Linked DNA regions of Homo sapiens: region 1 is linked to region 2. A link means that fine-mapping ties the variant in region 2 to the expression of a gene that starts in the linked region. Tissue or cell type: whole blood. Region 2 holds a variant in brackets; the other region holds the start of a gene. All regions are shown on one strand. Distances are between the middles of the regions.

The links. PIP is the estimated chance that this variant, and not a neighbour inherited with it, causes the effect.
Region 1: it holds the start of KLF11, and the variant in region 2 is fine-mapped to the expression of KLF11 in whole blood (TOPMed, PIP above 0.99). The same link has a PIP of 0.9 or more in blood mononuclear cells.

Annotation. Positions count from the first base shown.
Region 1 is chr2:10,039,929-10,048,104 of GRCh38, forward strand. It overlaps KLF11 (KLF transcription factor 11), which reads left to right and starts at 3,622. Exons shown (of 4, transcript NM_003597.5): 1 at 3,622-3,830; 2 at 6,222-6,491; 3 at 7,722-8,176. The coding sequence starts at 3,789. It overlaps KLF11-DT (KLF11 divergent transcript), which reads right to left and starts at 3,473. Exons shown (of 3, transcript NR_135558.1): 1 at 3,382-3,473; 2 at 2,705-3,076; 3 at 1,625-1,723. RefSeq lists a promoter at 2,880-3,779, silencers at 3,466-3,695, 3,986-4,035, 4,156-4,205, 4,246-4,315 and an enhancer at 5,539-6,278.
Region 2 is chr2:10,015,533-10,023,708 of GRCh38, forward strand. No RefSeq gene overlaps it. Among named protein-coding and RNA genes, the nearest start is that of KLF11-DT, 24 kb to the right of the region's middle. RefSeq lists an enhancer at 1-460. The variant C/T (reference allele first, on the strand shown) is at 4,423.

The DNA of each region.
Region 1 (8,176 bases), 24 kb after region 2:
CAATAGTCTGTAGCTTACAAATTGCCATCCCTCTGACTGCGGGCAGGGCCAGATTCAGGGGTTTGGCGACGACCACAGACTGTCTGTCCATCTGGAAGATGGGCTAGATGTGCGCAGAACAGGGGCTCATGGCTGAAGAGGGCACAGTTCCCACATGCGCCTGCTGTCCAAGGAGCAGAAACAGACCCTGGGGCAAGAGAAGCCAGAGTGCCAGTTCAGGGAGAGCTGCTGCCGCCTTCTGTCCTGCAGGAAAGAAGACTTGGCAAGGTCACACCGGCAAAACAAGGATTTGTATGCAGGTCTGACTCCAAAGCCCGGGCATGCTGCCTTCTGCAGAGGCCAATCAGGGAGGGCTTCACTGGGGAGTCATATGCAGTCTTTTTTTCTTTTTTTTTTTCTTTTTTGAGACGGAGTTTCACTCTTGTAGCCCAGGCTGGAGTGCAATGGCATGACCTCGGCTCACTGCAACCTCTGCTTCCTGGGTTCAAGCGATTCTCCTGCCTCAGCCTCCCGAGTAGCTAGGATTACTGGCTGATTTTTTGTATTTTTAGTAGAGACGGGGTTTCACCATGCTGGCCAGGCTGGCCTCAAACTCCTGACCTCAGGTGATCTGTCTGCCTCGGCCTCTTGAAGTGCTGGGATTACAGGCGTGAGCCACCGCGCCCGGCGGTCTCATGCAGTTTTGCAAAGTCAAAGCAGACGAGGGTTGGCATGTTCCACGCAGAAGGAATGCTGTCTAGAAACAGAAGAGAGTGGCGTGACCTTGAGAGTACAGGGTTCTGTATTGGGTCAGTGGGGGCAGGAAGGCAGCAGGGAAAGCAATTTGGGAAACTGGTCAGAAATGATGCAGGAAGTGCTGGCTGGAGCCTGGCTACAAAGACTCATGGGTTCCTGGCCATGGAGCCTGAAGTCAGTCCTATAACTGTTTGGATTCCAACTGACGGCTTGAATACAGGTTCAGCTCCACCTCTGCTTCCAGAAGATCATTCTGGCAGTGAGGTGAGGGCAGATTGTAGGGCGTCTGGCTGGAGGGAGGGAGACCTGTTGGGAGGCAGTGGCAACAATTCAGGTGAGCAGGTGGTGGCCAGGACAAGGGCTGGCGTGGGTGACATAAGAGTTTGAGAGGAACTGAGAAGGAAGAAGGGCATGTAATTGGCGGAAGACAGCAACTGTGCGAAAGGGAGGAGGTAAAGGTGACGCTCAGGTTTCTAGATCAAGGAACAGGGTCTCCAGTTGTACCCTTCACGGAGGTGAGAAATCCAGATTTGGCTGGAATCCGAGTTCAGTTTTTTGTTTGTTTTTTTGAGACTGAGTCTCTGACGCCCAGGCTGGAGTGCAGTGGTGCGATCTCGGCTCACTGCAATCTCTGCCTCCTGGGTTCAAGCGATTCTCCTGCCTTAGTCTCCTGAGTAGCTGGGATTACAGGCGCCTGCCACCGTGCCAGGCTAATTTTTGTATTTTTAGAAGAGACGGGGTTTCATCATGTTGGCCGGGCTGGTCTTCAACTCCTGACCTCAGGTGATCCGCCCGCCTCGGCCTCCCAAAGTGCTGGGATTACAGGCGTGAGCCACCGCGCCCGGCCCTGAGTTCAGTTTTTTTAAGGACACAATTAGAGGTGCTCACGGGATGTTCAAGCAGGGAGGCTGGTGGATACCTTCGATTCGCTCGTTCACCTACGTGGACTTATTAAACAGCCAGGCTCCCTGGCCTTGGGAGAGTCCTTCTGGTGGGGAGACAGATGATAAATAACTGAAGTAATGGAAAAGGGGCAGTTCAAGAAAAGTGTTGTGGAGGAAGAAAACAAGAAAGCCCGCCAGAAGGGGACTGGAGGTCGGCCCCGAGGGTGTGTCCGCTAGAGGGGGCCTCTCCAGGTGGACTGCGGGTGAGAGTAAAGGGGGCATGTGGGGGAAAAGCATTCTAGGGAACAGCAAGTGCGAGGACCTGGAGACGGCAGAGGGGCTGGTGGGACAGGCGCCCAAGAGGAGGCCCAGGCTGTCCCTCCGGGGCGTGGGGAGAGGCATGGGGCTGGGTCCCTGCAGGAGCTCACAAGCCACAGTGGGGAGCAGAAGCGTTACGCTGAGTACAGTGGGAGCCACTGAAAGGGTTAAAGACCCCTGGGGGTGCTGAGTGGGAAGAGGCTCTGGGAGCTGGAGTGGACGCAGGGAGACCAGTTATAAGGCGAATGCAGGAGTCCAGGCAAAAGAGAATATTCCAGTGTGTATCTTAAGACTTAACTTTTTACACACAGAACACCCTGCGCCCCTCTCAGAGCCTCCGGGGTCTTCATGCGAGCAGTTTATCACGGTTCTTTCGTCTTAAACCCTCTTACTATTTCAGCAAACACCCTCTCCTCAGCCTGGTCAACCCCTCTGCCCAACCCGAGTGGGCCCCGAAGGAACAAGTGGGGACCAGAGTCCTGCTCATGTGAGTGGTGGGGCCCAGCCCGTTCCCCTAAGACCAGAATTCTCTCGCTCAGAGCAAAGCCCCGGGGTGCCGGGATTCTCTCTCTGCTCCCGCTCCCTGGATGGAGCTTTTAAAAAAGGAGGATTCCTCACTGCGGCCTCTGCCCCTTGCACTGAGCGCCAACCCGCATCACAGCTCAGCAAAGGCGCGCGCAGTGAACAGACGGAGGAGGGGTGGCTCCTCGCTGAGCTGAAGGCTGCGGCGACGAAAATAAACAGCATGGTTCCTGCTCTCCACGAACCTGGCGCTGCAGACGTGGGCAAACCACACCAAGAGACGCGAGCAACCGAAATATAGGGAGAAAAAAAAAGGTGCCCTGGACAGCGGGCTAGATGTCTCCTGCAGGCTCGAGGACTTCCCGGAGGGGGCGGCGTTTTCTCGGGGCCTGGGAAGAATGGGCGGGTTTCAGCGGGCGCCTTCTGGGTGACTGCCCGTTTCGGCTTCCCCTGACCCCGTAACAGAGCGGAAGAGGCCCAGAGACGCCAGAGGAGGGGCGTCAGCGGGACACTCAGGCCAATAAGCTCTGACTCCCGCTGTCTGCAAAAATGACCGGATGCAGGAATGTCACCTAGAACCGGCCAGCTTTCCGACCTCTCCGGTCAAGGACGCATTCCTAAGAGACGAAGGGAGAATGACAGAAGTTAAAAACAACCAAACAAAAGCCAGGTTGAGGCCTCTAGGTGGGTCTCCGCTACCGATGGATTCAGCCGGTGGGGCTGCAGGAGGTTCCTATAAGCGTGGTCCCCTCTCCCCGCACCGAGTCCGGCCCCGGCCCTGGGATTTCCCCAGCCGCCGCCCCGCCCCCTCCGCCCCGCCGCCCCCGCCGCCCCGCCGCCCCCTCCGCCCCCGCCGCCCCCTCCGCCCCCGCCGCCCCCTCCGCCCCGCTTGCCCCTGGCGCCGCTGCGACCTTTCCCTTACTTTCCAGGGCCTCAGGCCCCGCCCCTCGCTCCGACCAAAACACGTGCCGCGTCCCGCCCTGCCCGATCACGCCGCGGCCAGGCTCCGATCACGCGGCCCCCCGCGGCGCTCATTGGCCGGCCGGGCACGAATTGGCTGGTGGTGGCCGGCCCCGCCCCGGCAGGGGCGCGGTGTATTTTGGTTCGCCTCCGCGCCCCGCCCCGCCAGCCGCTCCCTCCGCGGCCGCCCCGCCCCTCCCGCGCCGCGAGGGCCGCGCCGGGGCAGAGCCGCGCGGGCGGGCGAGGCGCGTGCCGGCCGCAGGAGCTCCGGGTTGCCGCCGCCGCCGCCGCCCGCAGCCCACGTGCGGCCGCTGCTGCGCCCGAGCTCACGCCCCGCGGCCGCTTTGTTGCTCCCGGCCGGCCTGCACGATGCACACGCCGGACTTCGCAGGCCCAGACGACGCGCGCGCAGTGAGTGGTGGGGCTGCCGCGGCGGGACTACTCGTCTGAGCGAGGGGCGAGGCGGGGGAAGTGGTGCGGCACTCGCGCGCCTGTAAATGCGGGAGGTGGGGCGTGCAGGGCTTCGCTGCGGCCGCGCCGGTAGGGGCCTGGGCGGGCTCCGGAGCCGGGCGGGGCGGCGGCCGCGACGGGCGCGCCCGGGTCGGCGGGGGCGAGGAGGGGGCGTGTTCCCCGCGCAGCTTTGTCTTGCGCTTCCTGGGCGGCCCCGCCCCGCTGGCCCCGCGGCTATTTCCAGCCATGACGTCACCCCGGTCCTGTGAGCCGGACGGCCGTTGGGCGGGGGAGCGGCTGGCGGGAACGCGGCACGCGGCCTTGGGGGCGGGGCAAGAGCTGCTGGCGGGAACGCGGCACGGTTTTGGGGGCGGGGCACGCGGCCGTCGGGCGGGTTAAGAGCGGCTAGCGGTAGTGCCGCTCGGGCCTGGGGGCGGGCAAGGTCTAGGGGCCGGGGCAACGACGGGAGGCGGGAGCGCCGCACTGCCTTGGAGGCGGGGCAACGCTTGGAGGCGGGAACGCGGCACGCGAGCGTTGGGGGCCCTAAGCGTCGCGACCTGGGGGCTTCGGGGAGGTAGCCGTGGACGTGGGCAGAGCGCGGGCCTCGTGGTGTGCGGGCACTGTGGGCCGGGCGAGCCCCTTCCCGCCCGTGTGGTGAGTCGGCCTCGGCGCCCGGTTCTGTGACATCACAGGGGGTTTAGTGGCGCAGCCTGCGGGACAGAGGCCGGGGATTTGAGGTGGCCTCGTCTTGTTTGATCTCGGGGAACCTCGGCAGACGGAAAGCTTTGATGCTTTGGTGCATGGCAGATAGAGAGGAAACGTGTATCTTCGTACATTTAAAGTTTCCTTTCCTTTTTTTTTTTTTTGATAGGGAGTCTCGCTCTATCGCCCAGGCCGGAGTGCAGTGGGCGCGCGATCTCGGCCCACTGTAACCTCCCTGGGAGGGAGGGGTATTACTCTTCTCAGAGTAATATCACCCTCTCGCCCCCGGCTTAGTTTTCTTTTGGAAGAGATCAGCTCATTCCAGCCTCTTCCCTCCTCCCCTCCAGATTAAAGAGACGGTGAGGGTCTGGTGCGGTGGCTCACGTCTGTAATCCCAGCACTCTGGGAGACCGAGGTGGGCGGATCACCTGAGGCCGGGCTTTCGAGACCAGCTTGACCAACATGGGGAAAACCGCTCTCTACTAAAAATACAAAAATCAGCTGAGCATGGTGGTGGGCGCCTGTAATCCCAGCTACTGGGGAGGCTGAGGCAGGAGAGTCGCTTGAACCTGGGAGGCAGAAGTTGTGGTGAGCCGAGATGGTGCCACTGCACTCCAGCCTGGGCAACAGAGCAAGACTCTGTCTCAAAAAAACAAGGCCGGGCGCCTGTAATCCCAGCACTTGGGGAGGTCAAGGCGGGTGGATCGCCTGAGGTCAGGAGTTGGAGACCAGCCTGGCCAACATGGTGAAACCCCGTCTCTACTAAAAATACGAAATTTTCTGGGCGTGGTGGCGGACGCCTCCCAGCTACTCTGGAGGCTGAGGCAGGAGAATCGCTTGAACCCGGGAGGTCAGTTCAAGGCCAGCTTGACCAACATAGCAAAACTCTCTTTCTACTAAAAATACAAAAATTACCCAAGTGTGGTGGCGGGCACTGCAGTGAGCCGAGATTGTGCCACTGCACTCCAGCCTGGGCAACTGAGACTCCATCTCAAAAAGAAAAAAAAAACTGCAAAGAGATCCTCTCCGGGTTCGCGGCAGGTTGGCTTCTTGTCACCACCTGCTAGCCTTGGGACAGTAACAGATGACTTCCACTCCCGAATCTGTGGAGGGAACTGGTGGAATCGCCATGGGCCCTACCTGCGTGGAGTGCTGGAAGCCTAGGCGGAAGGCCCCAGAGTCCCTGAGAGCATCTGTAGGGACACTGCTTTGGCGGCTTTGCCGCCTCAGAGAGCCATGGTCAGGGCGCCGCGGCCACTGGCAGACCGACTAGATGGCCTCAGTGTTGGCTCCTCCTCCCTGGGCAGCTGCTCCTCCTCCCAGCCACTTTTTGGCTTGAACCTCAGGAGTTAATTTTATTAATCATTTACCCAAGAAAAATATGAACTTAGTAGCCCTTTTTAAGAGTCAGGATTTTTGGTGGCAACGCTTGCCAGCTTAGTTCTGTCTGTGAAATGTTGGCTTAAAAGCCGAATTGTCATGAGCATTCCTTGAATGTCTTTTACTACACCTCGGTGTTTGTTGCTATAGACTATTGCATGTGCATTACATGCCTACTGTAGGCTTCTGATATGCATATCCACATGCCCATCATGGGTGGCCTCTGTATTTCCCCTGCACTGAGAAGCCGTTGTGTTGTGTCGCCTTTAGGTTGACATCATGGACATATGTGAGTCCATCCTGGAGAGGAAGCGGCATGACAGCGAAAGGTCTACTTGCAGCATCTTGGAGCAGACAGACATGGAAGCTGTCGAGGCTCTTGTTTGTATGAGCTCCTGGGGTCAAAGATCCCAGAAAGGTGACCTGTTGCGGATAAGACCCCTCACGCCTGTCTCTGACTCTGGGGATGTCACCACCACTGTGCATATGGATGCAGCCACACCTGAACTACCAAAAGACTTCCATTCTTTATCGACTCTGGTAAGAGGAGGTGGGAGGGAGGAGCGTTTTTGTGAAATGACTAGAGTAGCTGAACTCAGTGTGTTGAAGAACTTGTGAGAAGATTCCCTGGGATGCTGGCAAATAAGTTGCGTATCCTCTCTGTGTGGGTCTGAAGGAGTAGAAACTCTTCCTTTGGCCAGGCATGGTGGCTCAAGCCTGTAATCCCAGCACTTTGGGAGGGCCAGGCAGGCAGATCACAAGGTCAGGAGTTCGAGACCAGCCAGACCAACATGGTGAAACCTCATCTCTACTAAAAGTACAAAATTTATCCGGGTGTGGTGGCGGGCGCCTGTAGTCCCAGCTATTCAGGAGTCTGAGGTAGGAGAATCGCTTGAACCCGGGAGGCGGAGGTTGCAGTGAGCCGAGATCGTGCCACTGCACTCCAGCCTGGGCAACAGAGCGCGAGACCCCATCTCAAAAAAAAATAAAAGAACAAAAAAAGAAACTTTTCTTTCATTTCTGAAAAATGTGCTCTTTCTATGGATGGATCATACCTTGCTAGCTACGTGGTTAATGTCCGTGGGATGAAACCTACAGATTAATGTGAGAAAGTGAAATTTACTTCCCCAGGGGAATCTCGGGGTGGAGCTTAGGTTCTCCAGCCTAGTGTCAGAATATATCGGTAGCAGCTGGAGAAAGCATGTACTTTGACATCAGATTGCCTTCGTTGGGTGGCACCTCTGCCCTCCCGTGGCAGCCGACTCCTTAATGTGAGTTCTGTGAGTTGGGTGCAGTAAGTCACTCTTGCTTTTTGTTTTTTTAATTTGCTACATCTGTGAAAGTACTTGGAAAAATTGCATCTCAGCTTGGAGAAGCTGAGAACTGTAGGTTGCTAACAGAAGTGGAAATTGTGATTGTCCTGGGCTGGAAGCTTGCTCTGAAAGAAGAGTGTAGAAAGCAGATTTGGAGAGGGATAGGAAGGGCCTGTGGGTTGTCGGGAGGGTTGCAGAAGTGGTGGGCCTGGCGGCCAGGAGCTCCTCTCAGAGTTCCCTGCACTGGGCTCTTGTGTAGGTTTGGGAGAGGTAAACACGTTGGGAATAAGCTGAGAAAGCAGAGTGCCTCATGCAGCCTTGAAACCCACTGGGATGTTGAAAACAGGGTTAACTGAGTGTCTAGATGATTCTGTGTAAAGGTATTGGGAGCATTGTGATGAATTAAATCCCTTTTAAAATTTAAAGCAACCTTTTAACATGGTACTTTTTTTTTTAGTGCATAACTCCTCCTCAGAGCCCTGATCTCGTGGAGCCATCGACAAGGACACCTGTTTCTCCCCAAGTAACAGATTCCAAAGCATGTACAGCCACGGATGTTCTCCAGTCCTCTGCCGTAGTGGCCAGAGCTCTGAGCGGGGGCGCGGAGAGGGGCTTGCTGGGTTTGGAGCCAGTGCCCAGCTCTCCCTGCAGGGCCAAGGGGACTAGCGTGATCCGACACACTGGGGAGAGCCCTGCTGCCTGCTTTCCCACCATCCAGACTCCAGATTGCCGGCTTTCTGACAGCAGAGAAGGAGAAGAGCAGCTTCTGGGACACTTTGAAACTTTGCAGGACACACACCTCACGGACAGTTTACTCAGCACTAACTTGGTGTCCTGTCAGCCCTGCTTGCACAAGTCTGGTGGCCTGCTGCTCACTGACAAAGGCCAGCAGGCAGGGTGGCCTGGTGCAGT
Region 2 (8,176 bases):
GTGAGTCAGGTGGACAGGCGTGCGTATGAGCGGGTCAGGTGAGCAGGCATGCGTATGGGCGGGTCAGGTGGGCAGGCGTGCATATGGGTGGGTCAGGTGGACAGGTGTGCGTATGAGTGTGCGTATGGGCGAGTCAGGTGGGCAGACGTGCATATGGGTGTGCATATGGGTGATTCAGGTGGACAGGCGTGCGTATGGGCGGCTCACGTGGACAGGCGTGCGTGTCAGCGTGTCACGTGGACAGGCGTGTGTGTGGGCGGGTCAGGTGGGCAGGCGTGTGTATGGGCGGGTCAGGTGGGCAGGCGTGCGTATGGGCGGGTCAGGTGGGCAGGCATGCCTATGGGTGTGCGTATGGGCGAGACAGGTGGGCAGGCGTGCCTATGGGTGAGTCAGGTGGGCAGGCGTGTGTATGGGTGTGCATATGGGCGAGTCAGGTGGACAGGCATGCGTATGGGTGGGTCAGGTGGACAGACGTGCGTATGGGTGAGTCAGGTGGGCAGACGTGCGTATGGGTGGGTCAGGTGGGCAGGCGTGCGTATGGGTGAGTCAGGTGGACAGGTGTGCGTATGGGTGAGTCAGGTGGACAGGCGTGCGTATGGCTGTGCGTTTGGGCGAGTCAGGTGGGCAGACGTGCGTATGGGCAGTCAGGTGGACAGGCGTGTGTATGGGTGAGTCAGGTGGACCACTGTGTGTACGGGCGAGTCAGGTGGACCGGCGTGCATATGGGCAGGTCAGGTGGGTAGGCGTGTGTATGGATGTGCATATGGGCGGGTCAGGTGGACAGGTGTGTATATGGGTGTACATGTGTGCACAGGTGCTACTTTACTCTGTGTTCAACACGTGTTCGTGGACGTGCTCCAGGCCCAAGGCGAAGGAATAGGATGTAGCAGGGGCAGGGTCTCCGCCCCATACTCAGAGTCCTTGGGCTCCGGGAAGACACAACCGATAAGTGGTTACGGGGATGCCTGGGAGCTACGGGCACACACAGACCCTCCTGGGCCCAGCATAAGGGCCAGGGAAGACTTCCTGGAGTCCAAGTGGAAGCTGCAGGGTGAGTAGGAGGAGGGAGGGTGGGTGTCAATGTTCTAGGAGTCAGGGGCGCACAGAGTCCAGAGCAGGCACTCCAAGCATGGGATGGCTACTCTGGGGATCGCTCGAGCCGCTTGAGCATAGAGCTTATGGAGATGAGGTGGGAGGAGTGAAACCAACTTTAAATTCCCACAGCTCTGCTGGGACTGCTGGGTCCGGCCATAAGACGGTGACAGATAGCAGACTTACCTTTCCCCCATAAACAACTAGAAAACTAGACAAATTATATGAAGCAACTGTTTTTAAGCATAGGTGCCATGGCAGGGCTGTGACCCTAGAGAAGGACACACATGAGGGAGTTCCAGCTTCACCCTGGCTCTCTGCCCGGAGGTGTTTGGGGCATTTTCTGAACACAGCACAGGGAAGTAGAGCTCAGAGAGTGGTGATGGCATGGGCCGGAGCAGGCAGAGACTGGAGTTCAGGACCACCGAGGGGACTGGAACTTGTGGGGTTCCAGAGAGGAGCGGGTTGAGCAGGGAAGGAGCTTCAGACGTTTGCAGAGGAGCTCTCTTGAGTCTTTGAGTGAATACTAAACTGCACGTGCACAGGATGAGACGGCAAAGTCTGGCAGAGGAGAGCTGCTGGGAGCTGGGAGCAGAAGGGGGTGCCAGAGGATGCACGGGCACAGAGACCTTGGAGTTCTGGGCAGCCAGAGTGAAGAGACCACACCGAATATGCCAGACATTCAGCCAAGACCTCAGAAAAACCACCCTTTTTTAAAAAAGTTAGATTTATTCAGGTATCATTTACATACAGTGAAATTCTCCATTTTTAGGTGTACAACTCTATGACACATGCATACAGTCATGTAATCACCACCACAATCAAGATAGAAAACATTTCTACTGCCCAATGTTCTCTGTGCCCTTTGGTCATCCTTTCCTCCCTCCACTCCAGCCCCTGGTAACCACTGCCCTGATCTCTGTCCTTTTGAAAAGCACATGCCTCAGGTGTACTACACTAACCCTGGGGTAACGGCTGCTCTAGACCTGTCCCAACGAGCCCACAAACAAGCCTTGAGGAGCAAAACATCTACCAATAATTTAACTCATTGCCAAAACAAAATTCACTAATCTTTGAAAGAAAACAACAAAATTCAGATTCCCAACAATGTTGTATCATAATGTCCAGCATCCAATCAAAAATTATTAGACATGTAATAAAGCAAGAAAATTTGAGTCGTAACTGGAGAAAAACTAGCCCATAAGAAACCCTGTTGAAGCCGGGCATGGTGGTTCACCCTTGTAATCCCAGCACTTTGGGAGACCGAGGTGGGTGGATCACCTGATGTTAGGAGTTCAAGAACAGCCTGGCCAACATGGTAATACCCCATCTCTACTAAAAATACAAAAATCACCCGGGCATGGTGGTGTGTGCCTATAATCCCAGCTACTCGGGAGGCTGAGGCACGAGAATCGTTTGAACCAGGGAGGCGGAGGTTGCAGTGAGCTGAGATTGCGCCACTGCACTCCAGCCTGGGTGACAGAGTGACTCTCCTTCTCAAAAAAAGAAGCCCTGTTGAATTCATGGGACAAAGACAAGGTGTCTTTTGTCATTGAGTATTTTCCACTGATAGATGGTATAGCTACCACGAAAAAATATTAACATTAAAAGGAGTCTTCAAAAGTAAAAGAGAACCACGGGTATAGGAGCCAGCCAGAACCCAAGTGCACATCTAGATGGCCAATAGGTGCACAGTGTGGGCAGGCCTGGAGTTAAACACTAGGACCCAAACATGTGCACAGCCATATCACTAAGGGGTTCAGCTGGGTGAAGACACAGACATATGAGCACAGCACAGAGGGTAGATGCCACAAGAGAGGCACAAATGTCCCAGGCATCAAAGAGTGACAGATCACTTCTGCCTAGAGGAACTGTAAAAGACTTCATGAAGGAAAAATTTTTTTGAGACAGTCTCACTCTGTCACTCAGGCTGGAGTGCAGTGGTGTGATCTTGGCTCACTGCAACCTCCACCTCCCGGGTTCAAGCAAGTCTCCTGCCTTAGCCTCCCAAGTAGTTGGGACTAAAGACACATGCCATCACACCTGACTAATTTTTGTATTTTTGGTAGAGACAGGGTTTTACCATGTTGGCCAGGCTGGTCTCAAACTCCTGACCTCAGATGATCTGCCCGCCTCAACCTCCCAAAGTGCTGGGATTACAGGCATGAGCCACTGTGCCTGGCCAGCAAATTTCTTTGCACTGGGCTTTTAAAGATGATTGAGAAACAAAATAATTTTAAAATCACCTCTAAAGTCATTTATTACCCAAATGTGATCGCTGTTGGTATTCTGGTAAATTCCTTCTCTCTGAATTATCTTATTTTTTCCCAAGTGGAGCTCCATCTCCTCAATTCTGTTTTGCATTTTTCAGTTAATGTTATTTCAAAAACCATTTTATGAAAATTCTTTGTAGCAGCTATTTTTAACAGCTGTGAAATATTAACTGTCTGTGACATAATCCAATTAACTGATTCTCTGTTGTTGGGCATTTAGGTTATTTTCAAGTTCTAACTAATCCTGCAATAAGCATCTTGTTCTCCCTTGTTCTGGTTACTCTCTTAAGTTAGATTCCCAGAAATGGGATAATTGTTTCCGAAGATATTTGGGAACATCTGGGAAGTTCCTGATCTGTATTGCCAAATGACTTTTCTAGAAGGTTGTACAAATTTACATTCCCGCTACACGTACTCTCTTATGTTGTAATACATGTTTACATGCCTTTTCCCCCACAAATTATGCCCTATCCACCTTCCTGTCCCCGGTGCCTGCACAGGCAGCTGCCCAGCAGCGTCCCTTGCATCACACATGCCCATACTTGCACCATACGTGACCGTACTTTCACAGAGGAGAAGGAATATCCAGGGTCAGGGGGAACATCCCTGACAGACACTCCTGGAACCAAGACGTGGACAAGTGTGGATGGACACTTGGGTCTCTGAACTCTTTCTAGAACACCTGGCATGGAGATGAGATGGCCATCAGAGACCTGTCAGTTCTGTTTTCTCGCTTGGCGGCAGGGAAGCTGAGATCTAGGTGGGGCAAGTGGGTTCCACACGGCACAGTTCGTCCATGTCAGTGCAGTGGCTGCTTCTCGGGGTACGGCCAAGCCGGGGTCTTGCAGCCTCAGCTCCCAGCAGGACCCGCCCAGCCAGGGTCCTCAACCCTAGGCTGACATCTTGGCCTCACTGGCGTCACAGCTCAGCCCTCACCCTGCGACTCTGTGCACGTGGGGAGTGGGGAGATAAGAGCTAGAGGCAGACCTCCTAAGAGGAAGGAAAACGATGTGGACTTGGGGGAGGAAGGATCTGCCTTCCCTTTCTTCAGCGAGAG[C/T]TTCCTCTTCTCATAATACAGGGAGGACCTCAAGATGGCTGTCTCCCCCTTTAGAGATGCTGTGTCCCAGCAAAGGGGCACCTAGAACAGGAATTCTCAACCTCCCAGGACAACGGGTGGCCGCTGAGAACCCGGGAGACCTGGGGCAAGCGTCTCAGGCTTTCCTCAGCTGCTCCACCTGGAAACCGGGACGGGCAGGACCGCCTCTCGAGGCTGCTGTGAGCGTCCAGTTAGACCACGTGGGTGGGCGAGGGGCTTGTGCCTTGCCCCAAGGGGAAGCTCAACACACACCTTTATATAGGACACATTCAAGGAGGCCAAGTTCACCAGGCCACACTGCGGGGCCTATTTTTTGGGGGGGCGGGGGTGTTGGGGGACAGGGTCTCACTCTGTCACTCAAGCTGGAGTGCAGCGGTGCAATCATAGCTCACTACAGCCCCAACCTCCTGGGCTCAAGCAATCCTCCCACCTCCTGAGTAGCTGGGACTGCAGGCATGCCCCACCATGCTTGGCTAATTTTTTAATTTTTTGTAGAGACAGGCTGTCATCGCTATGTTGCCAGGCTGGTCTCAAACTCCTGGCCTCGAGTGGTCCTCCAACCTTGGCCTCCTTAAATCCTGGGATTCCAGGGATGAGCCAGCCCACCCAGCTGGAAGACTGCTGCCTTGATGGGCCCCAGTGAATCCCCTGCTATTGATGATCTTCTGTAGTTCCCTCCCACACCAGATCTGGACAGGCCTTGAGACCCATTTGGCGGATAGAATGTGGGGGAGGCCTGGCAGCTTCCTGGTCTCTGGGAAGCTGCCACGCTGTGGAGAGCTCAGGCCATCCTACTGGAGGGAAAAGCCATGCACGCAGCTGCAAGAGTGACCTTCCTCAATACCACATGCAGCAGCAGAACCACCCCAGTGACACGCACACTCGTGAGGAGGAATCAATCACCGTCATCTTAAGCCACTAAGTTTTTTTTTTTTTGAGACAGAGTCTCGCTCTGTCACCCAGGCTGGAGTGCAGTGGCGCGATCTCGGCTCACTGCAACCTCCGCCTCCTGGGTTCAAACCATTCTTCTGCCTCAGCCTCCCAGGTAGCTGGGATTACAGGCACCCACCACCACAAGCCTGGCTAATTTTTGTATTTTTGGTAGAGATGGAGTTTCACCATGTTGGCCAGGCTAGTCTCGAACTCCTGACCTCAGGCCATCCACCCGCCTCAGCTTCCCAAAGTGCTGGGATTATAGGCGTGAGCCACTGCACCCGGCTAAGCCACTAAGTTTTGAGGTGGGCTGTTACTTAGTAATGGATACCTGAACCCGGCTGGGTGCGGTGGCTCACACCTGTAATCCCAGCACTTTGGGAGGCCAAGGCAGGTGGATCATGAGGTCAGAAGATCAAGACCATCCTGGCTAACCCCGTCTCTACTAAAAAGACAGAAAATTAGCTGGGCGTGGTGGCGGACGCCTGTAGTCCCAGCTACTTGTGAGGCTGAGGCAGGAAAATGGTGTGAACCCAGGAGGCAGAGCTTGTAGTGAGCCGAGATCGTGCCACTGCAGTCCAGCCTGGGGACAGAGCGAGACTCTGTCTCAAAAAAAAAAAAAAAAAATAGATACCTGAACCTCCCTCCTCCCCAACCTCCCTCCTCCCCATCCCAGCTTTATCCTCTGGGGCTTCTCCTGTGGTGTGCAGGTAAATGTTTAACAAGCAGCTCTCGCAGGGGATTGAGGGGAGCTCATGTGAAGTGTTCGTCAACATCTGTGGTGTAAATATTCTCATCATGGCTGATTTCAAGCTACCAACATGACATGGCTGAACACGAGATTGAGAAGAAATGTGCACCATCTGTCCAGGAGCGGGCGAGCTGGATCCAGCACACCTGGATTCTCCTCCCCTGACACGTGACAACCCTGCAGAGACTTGAGATCAGCCGCTCAGATTAGGTGATCAGAAGCATTTTGTCACGGAGACACGGAGTTCTGGGCCGGCTCTTATCTTCAGGGCATCTGGTAGGGTGGAAAGCACTTCAAGTCATGCGCCAAGCCCACGTCCTATTCCCTGGGCCCATTCCCTTCCGTTGAAGTGCTGGAGGCAGAGCTCGCAGCTGAAGACCTACAGGCGGCTCTCCCTCGTGTCTGGGCATGAGCGGTCTGTGGAGGCAGCAGCCAGGCTGTGTCCAGGTAGCCCTGACGGCCACTGCACAAGAGCAGTGTCGGGTAGAGTCCGAGCACCCATCAGCTCAGCCCCAGGCTCCATCAGAGGCGGTGGAACGGGCCCTGAGGATGCCTCAGTCCTGGGCCTTAGTGGGAGGCCTTCCAGGTGAAGCCCTGGGGACCAGGTAGCCCTGCTCAGCAAGCAGCCCTGGACCCTACCTCAGCAGCCCCGGACCCCACCTCGGCCGCCGCAGGAAGCCAAGGGGATGAGGGACCAACTCGGGAAATGGTGGGTGAGGCTGGTGGCTCCTGGAAACGCCGGTCACCAGGGCGGCAGCACCGGTCCTCACCCCTCCCTGCCAGGACTTCAGCAGCTCTCAGCCCCTAAGCATGATAGTTTCTTGGGTCAACCAAATAGTCATCTAGGGGTTACTGTGAAGGTGTTCTGTAAGTATGTCACATCTGCAGTCAGCTGACTGGAGTGAAAGGCCATTACTCTCAATCATGTGGCGGGGGTAGGGGTGGGAAGCCTTGTGCAACCAGTGAAATGCCTTGAGAGCAGAGCTGGGGTTTCCCTGAGGACAGAGAGATTTTACCTGTGGACTATAGCATCGCCTACTGCCCGAGAGGCCCAGGTGCCGCCTGCCCTATGGATTTCCACCTTGCTCAGCCAGCCCCCACCTTGTCTGAGCCAATTTTTCACAATAAATCTCTCCCTCCCTCCCTTCCTTTCTCTGTCTCATCCCCTCCATGTATATGTAATATCTCTTATGTGTCTCATAGAGAGATTTATTGCAAGGAATTGGCTATACAACACACGTACATGCATATCCACGTGTAAACATGTGCACACACACATACACACACACCACACACACCACACCCCTATCCTGCAGGTTCCTTTCTCTGCTGGGACCCTGCTTGCTTCACCAGGGGTGCTGAGCCCCTGTGTCACCAGTGGAGGTCTCAGCAGCACAAGTCCCCAGGCACAGCCCCTCAGCGCCCTGCCCTCAGCCGTGGCTCCAGGGGTGAAGTAGGACCTCAGGGTGTAAAGGCCAGTGCCACGGTTCTTATGGGGTGTGCTGCGGGAACCCTTATCTTCATGATCATGTGAACTGTGCCCCCAGTCCTTTCTGTTTCCTTGAGGGAGGCCTTGGCTTCTGGAGCCCAGAGTCAGAAAGTGCCCGGACCTCCTGTGCAGGCTGCCCCACCTGGCTCTCCCTGGCTGTGGGTCCAGGACCTCCATCCTGAGTTGGGGCAGGGAGGCTTGAGACTTGGGGAGGAGAGGGGAGATGCTGGGAGCTGGAAGAGCGTGTGCCCCCAAAACCAGCTCCTGGGGCCTGTGGGCTGTGGCCCGGGAGGAAGGGCAGAAGGCTCGGGAAGGCTGGAGTGGTCCTGCAGCAGAGTTATGGGGACACCAACTGGCTGGTTTTGGGGCAGATAGATGGGACATAGGGGTGAAGTGGCAGCAAGGGGTACCTCTTTCCATCCTAACATCTCGGCGGATGCTGAGAGGGTGTGGCTTTGAATTTCAAGAGCCCTGATGGTGAGACCCCAGCAAAGGTCTCATTGGGATCGGGGTTCTAAGGCTTAGACACTCGGGCTTCTACA